Linked DNA regions of Homo sapiens: region 2 is linked to region 1. The links come from fine-mapping of genetic effects on gene expression. A gene starts in region 1. The other region holds a variant in brackets. All regions are shown on one strand. Distances are from middle to middle.

What was found. PIP is the estimated chance that this variant, and not a neighbour inherited with it, causes the effect.
Region 2: its variant is the best candidate, but not a certain one, in a credible set for the expression of MEIKIN in blood mononuclear cells (TOPMed, PIP 0.51).

Annotation. Positions count from the first base shown.
Region 1 is chr5:131,943,553-131,948,936 of GRCh38, reverse strand. MEIKIN (meiotic kinetochore factor) reads left to right here and starts at 3,274. Exons shown (of 13, transcript NM_001303622.2): 1 at 3,274-3,537; 2 at 3,688-3,781; 3 at 4,185-4,272. The coding sequence starts at 3,432.
Region 2 is chr5:131,907,834-131,913,217 of GRCh38, reverse strand. It overlaps MEIKIN (meiotic kinetochore factor), which reads left to right. Exons shown (of 13, transcript NM_001303622.2): 8 at 1,339-1,403. Among named protein-coding and RNA genes, the nearest start is that of MEIKIN, 35 kb to the left of the region's middle. The variant A/TA (reference allele first, on the strand shown) is at 2,455.

The DNA.
Region 1 (5,384 bases):
CCCCTTGGTCCTTTTTCTTGTGTTGCATAGCATTAAGACTGCAATACCTGAAGGTATATTTCCTCTCTCACTGTAATTTATTCCATTCTTGTCATCCAAGCAAAAATAAACTGGTTTGTGGTTGGATTCCCATAGTTCACGGATAGCACCACAAAGATGCTCAGTGGGTTACTCCATAAGAAAACATCATTCAAAAGGATTTACTTTGGGCTCCAGTGAATCTCAAACCCACAAACTGGCTGTTTTCCCAAAAGATTTATTCAGAAATCTCTTTGACATTTGTTTTCCCATGGAAGTTAATATCTTCATGACTGTTCCAAGCCTAGTCAAATCCACCATGTGTTGAAATGAAATGCTGATTACTGAGTTTTGGGTCTAGGTATGGAAGCAGTGCAATGGGGAAATGGAAGAAGTTTGAACACTCATGATTAAACACTTGCACTGGTGTTTGCAGATTTGGAAGTGGAGTAGGGGGAGATAGATGACTGAATTTGAGATATCTCTGCCCTGTCTCATCCTTTTTAGGAGACACGTTTCTTTCCCCCTTTATAGGTTGACTCTAGGTGAAGTATCAAAGAGACCAAGTCTGTCTCTAGTTCCTTCACTTCCCCTTGCCACCAAGGAATTCAAGCTCCTCTCTTTGCTCCCCCTACTTTTCTCCCAGCCATGTGTTAGGAAGAATGGGAGTATGACAAGCGCAGCAGCCAGATGCCAGGAGAACCATGTTCCCTATGCCAATCATCTGTTTTAAATAGCTTCCCTACACTCTGGTTTCCTCAGTGGCAAAATGAGGGGGCATCTAGATCATCTCTAAGGACCCTTTTGGCTAAAGAAATCATATCAAAGTTTATTTCTGGTTTTGAAACCTGATACGTTAATTCCCACAAACCTATGGGAATTACTTGATGACATATCAGTGAATGTAATTCAGTATAGTGAGACAGAGTTCTAGGGAACAGGACCACCAAATGGCAGACCAGCTTTTGGTTTAACCTATTTTCATTTTGCAATGTTTCTTCCATTTCTGGGCCTAAGGCACCCCAGGCTCTAGACCTCCCAAATGTCATTTAAGAAGTCTGAATTTTTTTCACAACAGCCCCCAAAGGGAGAGGGGGGAGCATAAAGGCCTGGCTTGTAAACTAGAGACTGCCTGCCAGCATATTATGGACACGACTAAAGAAAGAATGTTGAAAGATGATAATTGCTTTATACTGCAGCAAGGCTGTGAGATCTTTAACTGAAGGACCATTTCTGATTCACTTCTGTATCCCCAGGACCTACCACAGTGCTTAATACAGATTAAGGTGTTCAGTAAATATTGATTCAATGACTCAAAACCCGAGGTAAAACCAGGTAAGAATGCCTACCATCTGTTCTTTAGAAAGCTAGATTTTGATGATTAATTATCTAGTAAATTGATTATCATAAATGTTTCTGTGAGCAGATTTTAAATAAAATATTCAGTGATTATATTACAAAAATACTGTGGATATATATGTGCTTATATTCGCACATACAAGACTGAGGTGTTACAGAAAAACCTTTAAGCTTTTCATAGTTTTATCTCTTCAAACTGCATTTTAAATGTTATGAAATATTTCCACTTTTTAGAATAAAAAGATGGTTATTGTTATGTGCATAATATGCTCATCTGATGTCGCCAGATGGTTCAACCTAGGGTATGGAGAGAAAGGGAGGTAATTCCAACATATCTCTAATTGACAGAGCAGAAGAGTTTGCTACCGAGCAGTCAATGGGCTCACTGCCTGATGAATGCAGAGGCTAATACCATGGCACTGGCTTTTGGGAAAAGAAAAGCTTTATTGCAAGTGGGCTGGCAAGGAGACAGGAGGAAATGCTCAAATCTGTCTTCCTAAGCTGGGGTTTGGTTTGGTTTTTATAAGCATAGGGTAAAGAGATGTGATCTGATTGGATCTTGTAATGAGGTGATGCTGGGAGGCATGATCTGACTGGATCCTGCTATGGGATGAAGCCAGAGCTCAACCCGGTTGGATCCTGCCATGCCATATCTACTTCTTAATTCAGTCCCTCCTCCTTGATCTGAGCACTTGGTTTCCCCTGTGGCTGCATGCTTGGTTCATCTAGGCATGCTCAGGTTACATGACCTCAGGGTTCATGGCAACTGAAAAACAACTCACAATTTTGTTACATAAAAGTTGAACCAAGGCTGGGCAAGGTGGCTCACACCTGTAGTCCCAAGAATTTAGGAGGCCAAGGCAGGAAGATCACGTGAGGCCAAGAGTTCAAGACCAGCTGGGATAACATAGCAAGACCCCGTCTCTATAAAAAAATTTACAAATCAGCTGGGCATGGTGGCATGTGCCTGTAGTCTTAGCTACTCGGGAGACAGAGGTGGGAGGATCACTTGAGCCCAGAGTTTGAGGCTGCAGTGAGCTATGATTGTACCACTCCACTCCAGCCAGGGTGACAAGCCAGACCCTGTCTTAAAAAAAAAAAAAAAAAAAAAAGAGGAGAAGGGGAAGGGGAAGGGGAAGAAAGAAGAAAGAAGAAAGGAGAAAAGAAGAAGAAGAAGAAGAAACAGATCGGTCTGGTGCAGCAACAAGTTGAGGCCCAGGGCACAAGGAGGAGAGCCCCTATGGAATCTTCTACCTTAACCACAAGGATGCCCAGATGTCTAGAGATGGCTCCTGGACACAGGCTAAGGGACTGTTTGTCGTCCAGAAGCAGCCTCCTAGAGCCCGGGATCTTCAGAGGCTTGGTTAGCCTCTTAATTACCATAGCTTCCCAGTCAGTTGCAGGCCCAGGGGACTGAAGTTGATTCCTCAGGGAGAAGCTCCTTGTCACTTTAAGGTGCATTCAGTCCTCTTTGTGACCTTCCTGCACTGAGGCCAACCCCTCACAAGACTGCCTGTGCTGGTGGCCTAAAACTCCATTACTAAGGCCTTATGCAGTGCTGATAGGGAGAGCTTGCTCAGAGGAAGTGTTGGGCCCACCCAAAGGAGGGAACGCCTTTACTCCTGCATGCCCAGTTGAATTAAGCATGCAGCCACAGGCGAAACCTAAGTGCTCAGACGGAGGAGGAGGGGCTGAATTAAACCTTTTTCTGGACGAGGAAAAAGTTTTTTCCAAAAAACTCTCGTTTCGCTGGAGTTGAAGGAACCTGCGCCAGAAGGCCAGAAACCACTGGGCCCCTATAGGAAGGCTGGGCGGCTGCCGCGCTCCTCCGTTTTCCCAGAAGCCTCTGCGCGGCCTCACAGAGATAAAAGCGCGGGAGCGAGGCCCGGCGGCTCCAGTTCTGGGGCTTTTGCTTTCGCTCGATTAGTTGCTGTGAGGCTGCTCCGCGGGCCTCGCCTGGACGCTGACTCCCTGTGACTTAGCCCTGATCCTCAGGAAGGCAGGCCATCGAGAGTCCAGAGGCACCCGTGGCCTGGGGGTAGGGTGGGATAGCAATGTGGCCGCTACGGGTCTATACCCGCAAAAAGCGGGAGGGTCAGAGGCTCAATCTCACCCCGACGCCAGACCTAGGCTCTCCAGCGAAGGCCGAGGCCCCGCCAGGTACAGGCTCAAGGCTCGCCCACCGTAAGCTCAGCCGAGCTGCCTCCGGGACGGGACCGAGGGCGGGCGGGGGTGCTAGGCCTCGGGCCCAGGACCCCCCCGAAGCCGGTGGGTAGGTTTCTTGCCCTGAAACGTGCCGCCCTCTCTCAGGTTCGAAGAGAAAAGGCAAAGTGCACGGCTTGTCGAAGATTGCAGAGAAAGCAGAGCGGAGCAGGCAGGGAGGTAGCGGCTCTGGGCCGTTCAGGTATGTAGCCTCCAGTAACAGCCCGATCCTAGCTTGCCACCTCAGAAAACTTCAAGCCGAATTTTCTGCTAGTAGCCTTTTATTCTAACAGTCAAGGAGCAAAACAAATACAGTACTCTGATTTTGCTCTTCTCAGAACATGGACCCCAAAATTTGACTTCAGGAAGATTTATTTTTAAAAAGGGGAAGGCTTGCCAATTTACGTAAAAGGAAGTGAGATAAATTGGTCGGTGAGCTATACGATTGTGTCACTGCATTTGGGTTTTGGTGCAAGTCACCACTCTGGTCCTTACTTCTTCCTAAAGATGTCCCTAAAGAGCCTTTCAGATTCTAAAGAGTCTGAACAGAGACGTGGAGAGCCAAATCCAGATGGTGCAAACTAATTGCGTTGTCTCTTTGTTAGCCCTCGCTTAGGAGTTACAGGAGAGAAAAGCCTGCAAGAAAATAGGTCTAGTGAAGACACCCAGGATGAGAAGATTGCATCGTTGCGTGTATGTATGCTTCTCTTTTAGTCCTTGGACACACTTAGTGTAGAGACTATCAGTACCTGATGTACCTCCGGATGAAAGAATAAAATGGGCTTTGTTCTGTAGATGTTACATAGCTCACCAGTATTTTTATAAACACTTACGTGTCTTTAGACAGGGCCTTGAATTTCTGACTTGGGTAGATTCATAGTCATGCATTTTTGTTTTTCTCTTTCTCTTGACACGTTTTTGGAGAAACGTCCATAATTGGTGAATTTTCTGTATGACAAATACAAAATGTTACTTAATAACTCCTTTTTTCATGTTTTCCATTTGATTTTCCATTAACAACTGGAAACATTCATTACTAAGGGTTTAATATGTTACAGAGCATTCTAATGTTTATTCATTAGAATATTTTATAACTTCTTGATGTGCTGTATTTAATATGAATTCTGTACTATATTTTAAAGTTGTACAGCACTAATTTAGGGAAGCTCAGATTTTAAAAATTGCTTGTGACTCATCTGACATTAACATTAAACTTCATAGTCAAGTTCCTTTTTTTTTTTTTTTTGGAGACAGAGTCTTGCTCTGTCACCCAGGCTGGAGTGCAGTGGCACAGTCCTGGCTCACTGACTGCAGCTTCTGCCTCTCGGGTTCAAGCGATTCTCCTGCCCCAACCTCCTGAGTAGATGTGATTACAGGTGTATACCACCACCCAGCTAATTTTTGTATAGAGGGGGTTTCTCCAGGTTGGCCAGGCTGGTCTCGAACTCCTGACCTCAAGTGATCTGCTCGCCACGGCCTCCCATAGTGCTGAGATTACAGGCTTGAGCCATCACACCTGGCCAAGTTCTATTTTTTTTTAACTTAATATTCCTTTATAACATGTTTTTGGGGGAAGGCAGTTTCAACACAAGACATTTTTTTAAAAGGCTTTTATCCATAGTTTAACAGTGTAAAGTAGTCCTTGTAGAGTATTTATACTATGAAAAAATAGTGTTTTGAAAGTTTCTTAAAATTTTTATATATTTCTGTTCCTTTTCTCCTGTGCTTTAAAAAAAATGACCAGTTGTCTTATTGTATATTCCCATACATTAAATAGTCTTCAAAAATATGACTTTCAGTGTCTT
Region 2 (5,384 bases), 36 kb after region 1:
AAGCAGCTGGAGGTTCCATCATCAAAGGCAAAAGCTGAGGAGATGATAAAAAGCAGCAAGTGAGAGAGCTCCGGTGATAGGTAGAGCTCCAGTGATAGGTAAACCTCCAACGAACCCTTCAGAATACTTCAAGTTTAAAAGGGTCCACATTTGATTATGTGTCATATCCCAGAGATACCAATGGCACATAACTATATCAGTCAAGATTGAGAAAGACTTTCCTGTACATTTCTAAAACTCCTTTCCTATAATTCACTGCCAGAGGAACCCAAAGTGTAGTTTCCAAATAGGCAAGGGAAAAGAACAAGAAACAGAGATGAAACCAATGGTGGTTGCTCTTCCCACAGCATATTCTGAGTCTAAATCATGCCCAAGCTGAGAAAAGGAAAAAATTTAAATTGCATAAGGAGAGTTTGGATTTGTAATATTACACTGAACTTTTTGTTACCTAAAAATAGCTACTTATTACAAGAGAATGCCAGAAAGGTGTTAGTAAAAAGAAATCTACCTGAAAGTTCATTCAGAGGCGAGAAGGTACTATTTTGACAGGATACGTTTAAAAGGAAATATGAAAGAATAAAATTGTTTCTGTTTACTGAGTTCAACTATTCAATTAATCAGTGTAGGAATTTAGAAAATTCCCTTCTCACATTTGGTTTTCAACTGCATTTTCTTGCTACGGACTCAGAAATCCCATTTTTGTGGTCAGAGGCTGAGCTTTGATCCTTTCTTATTTATTCCTTTTGTGATAGCTAGTCCTTTCCTACACATTTAGATAGAACTGGGGGTTGTCTAGTTTGTAGAAGTACAAAATAAAAAAACCCCAGGATATTAATTTCAAAAAAACCTTTTACTGCAGTCTAGCCTGGGTAACAGAGCAAGACCCTCTCTCAATAATAATAATAATAATATAATAATAATAATAATCAATCTGTCATGTATCTTAAAATTCTTTCCACAAGAATCTTAGGAAACATGATTGCTATCCCTTTTGCATAAATGAGGTAACCAAGACTCAAGACAGGCTAAGTAGCTTTCCAAAGGCCACCCAAGTGTGAGTAGTGGAACTGGAGTTTAAAGCAAGGTCTGTCTTATTCTAAACACTATGCCCTGTCCTCTACGCATATTGTTTCACACTCATAAATGTATAAATATATTGCCTTTTTTATTAAACTATTTGTTCATATAAATACCATAACATTTTTCTAAGCAACTGTATATTTTCCCACAGGATAATTAATCTCAAATAAATATCTTTATTTTAAGTATTATTTGAGGGTTTTTGAAAGTTACTGAAGGATTTAGAAAATACCACTAAACAGTTTGTTCTTGTTATAGAGTGATGACAGTAGCAGATCAAAATGTTTCTCCAAAAGCAAAGTGTGCTTCAAATTCAGAATCAGGTAACAAATAATGAAACTAATTATTTTATGTAGTAATTGTAATATTTATGTTAAAACACGATTCTGTGTTTATTTTTGCTACCTGCAACATGCATTAACAAAGTTAGTAGCCCAGTGAACCGAGTACTTTTTAGCTTGGTTGTATTTAAGAAATGAAGATATGTGGGATCAGAAAGTGGGTCTTAGCTATCCCCACAGCATCAATCATTTATTCATTTAATAAACATTTAATGAATATGAACTCCATACTAGATATTGTTATATATACTAGTGGAAGTGATACACTTTTCCTCCCCTTGTAGATTTCAGTTGTAGGAGAGGACAATAAGTGAACATATATTGTAGTTATGCATAATGATTGAAAAATAAAGGGATAAGCAAAGTGTCTTGCAAACCCTTATGTAGTTTACTATTAGGATAAATTTAGCAAGACATTTACATCCTTATTAACCTCTGCTGTATCTCATATTTTTCTATATTTCCTGCATCAAGTTTTATAGCATCCATTTGAGAGTAAACTTGAAGAATTGCTGATTTTGCTCTTGATGGTTGTAAATGTTTGTATGTATATATATTTGCATAATCTTCATTTTAAGAAGTTATCTTAATGAGCATTTACTAAATGCCACACATTAAGTTAGGAACTGTAGGTATAAAACAATTAATATACTTTCTGTTCTAAGCAAAATTAGTCTAGTGATAAAAACTAATCTTGTAAAAGCACAAAATCCTTGGAAGGAGCAATACCTTCTACCCTGGAGGGTTAGCATTGGAAGAAGGATTTGTTTTACAGATCAAAGAATAAGGGAATGTGTGAATAACAGATGAGCACTAATTAAAGGGAAAGTGGTAAGTGTACCAAAATCAACCATGATTTTACCTAGGTTTTGCCAAATAAAAAGTGTTGCTTTAGCTGTGGAAAATATTTACAAAGCTTGGTGGTAGGGCAGAATAGTGATTCTTGAATTCTGTATGTTTCTGTATTCTTACTTTTATATGGTAACTTAAAATTTAAAATTAAATAAGCCACTTACTCTAGAGATTTTTTTTT[A/TA]CACATTTCTTTTTACAATTTTTTTATTATTAATATTTGTGGATACATAGATGGTGTATATATTTATGGCTTACATGAGATATTTTAATACAGGCATGCAATGCATAATAATCACATCAGGGTAAGTAGGGTATCCATGCCCTCAAGCATTTATCCTTTGTGTTACAAATAATACAGTTATACTCTTTTAGTTATTTTTAAATGTATAATTAAATTATTTTTTACTACAGTCATGCTGTTGTGCTAGCAAATACTAGGTCTTATTCATTCTTTCTATTTTTTTGTACCCATTAACCATCCCCACCTTCCCTACAAACCACTCCCCCTCTCCAACTATCCTTCTCAGCCTCTGGTAACCATCCTTCTATTCTCTATCTCCACGAGTTCAATTGTTTTTGTTTTAGATCCCACAAATAAGTGAGAACAAGTGATATTTGTCCTTCTGTGCCTGGTTTATTTCACTTATCATAATGACCTTCAGTTTCATTCATGTTGTTGTAAATGACAGGATCTCATTCTTTTTTAAGGCTGAATAGTACTCCATTGTGTTTATGTACCACATTTTCTTTATCCATTCATCTGTTGATGGACACTTAGGTTGCTTCCAAATCTTGGCTGTTGTGAATAGTGCTGAAACAAATGCGGGAGTGCAGATACCTCTTTGATACACTGATTTCCTTTTGTTTGCGTATATACTCAGCAGTAGGATTGCTGGATCGTATGATACCTCTATTTTTATGTTTTCGAGGAAGCTCCAAACAGTTCTCCTTAGTGGTTATATTAATGTACATTCCCACCAACAGTATACGAGGGTTCCCTTTTCTCCACATCCTCACCGGCATGTTATTGCCTGACTTTTGGATAAACGCCATTTTAACTGGGGTAAGATGATATGACATTGTAGTTTTGATTTGCATTTCTCTGATGATCAGTGATGTTGAGCACCTTTTCATAGACCTGTTTGCCATTTGTATGTCTTCTTTTGAGAAATGTCTGTTTAGGTCTTTTGCTCATTTTTAATTGGATTATCAGATTTTTGTTTTTCCTATAGAGTTGTGTGAGCTCCTTATATATTCTGGTTATTAATCCCTAATTAGGTGGAGTAGTTTGCAAATATTTCCCCCCATTCTATGGGTTGTCACTTCACTTTATTGATTGTTTCCTTTGCTGTGCAGAAGCATTTTAACTTGATGTGATCTCATTTGTAATTTTGCTTTGGTTGCCTGTGTTTGTGGGGTATTACTCAAGATATCTTTGCCCAGCCCAATGTCCTAGAGACTTTCCCCAATGTTTTCTTGTAGTAGTTTCATAGTCTGAGGTCTTAGATTTAAGTTTTTAATCCATTTTAATTTGATTTTTGTATATGGCAACAGACAAGGGTCTAGTTTCATTCTTTTTCATGTAGCTATCCAGTTTTCCAAGCACCATGTTAAAGAAACTGGCCCTTCCCCAAAGAATGTCCTTGGCACCTTTGTAAAAAATGAGTTCGGTGTAGATGTATAGATTTATCTATGGGTTCTCTTTTCTGATTCCTTGGTCTATGTGTCTGTTTTTTATGCCAGTACCATGCTGTTTGGGTTACTGTAGCGCCATAGTATAATTTAAAGTCACGTAATGTGATTTCTCAGTTTTGTTATTTTTGCTCAGGTTAGCTTTGACTATTCTGGATCTTTTGTGTTCCATATAGATTTTAGTACTTTATTTGTATGAAGAATTTCATTGATATTTTGATAGGGATTGCATTAAACCTACAGATTGCTTTGGGTAGTGTGGCCATATTTACAATATTGATTCTTTCAGTCCATGAACATGGAATATCTTTCCAATTTTTTGCTGTCTTCTTCAATTTTTTGCATCAGTGTTTCATAGTTTTCATTGTAGAGATCTTTCAGATCTTTGGTTAAGTCCCAGATATTTTAGTTTATTTGTTGCTCTTGTAAATGGTATTACTTTCTTGACTTCTTTTTCAGGTTGTTCACAGTTGGCATATGAAAATGCCACTGATTTTTATATGTTGATTTTGTATCAAGTAACTTTGCTAATTTATTTATCAGTTCTACTAGTTTTTTGGTGGAATCTTTAGTTTTTCTTTTAAGTATAAGACCATGTCATCTGCAAACAAAGATAATTTGACTTCTTCCTTTGCAATTCAGATGCCCTTTATTGCTTTCTCTTGTCTGACTGCTCTAGCTAGACTTCCGATACTATGTTGAATAATAATGGTGAAAGTGAGCATCGTGTCTTCTTCCAGGTTTACAAAGAAAGGCTTTCAGTTTTTCCCCATTTAGTATGATACTAGCTGTAGGTCTGTCATATATTGGCTTTTATTATATTGAGGTATGTTCCTTCCGTACCTACTGTTTTGAGAATTTTTATCATGAACGGATGTTGAATTTTATCACGATTTTCTAGCATAATTTAAATGATCATATGGTTTTTTTCCTTTATTCTGTTGATATGATGTATCATATTGATTGATTTGCATAGGTTGAACCATCCTTGCGTCCCTGGGGTAAATCTCACTTGGTCTGGAAGAATGATCTGTTTAATATGTTGTTGAATTCAGTTTGCTATTTTGTTGAGGATTTTTACATCAGTATTCTTCAGAGATATTGGCCTATAGTTTTCTTTTTTTGATATGTCTTTGTCTGGTTTTTGTATCAGGGTAATACTGATAGCATTGAATGAGTTTGTCAGTATTCCTTCATCCTCTATTTTTTGGAACAGTTTGAGTAGGATTGGTATTAGTACTTCTTTAAATATTTGGTAGAATTCAACAGTGAAGTCACTAGGTCCTGGAATTTTCTTTACCAGGAGACTTTTTATTATAGCTTCAATCTTGTTACTTGTATTGTCCTGTTCAGGTTTTGGATTTATTTATTTATTTATTTTGAGACGGAGTCTCACTCTGTTGCCCAGGTTGGAGTGCA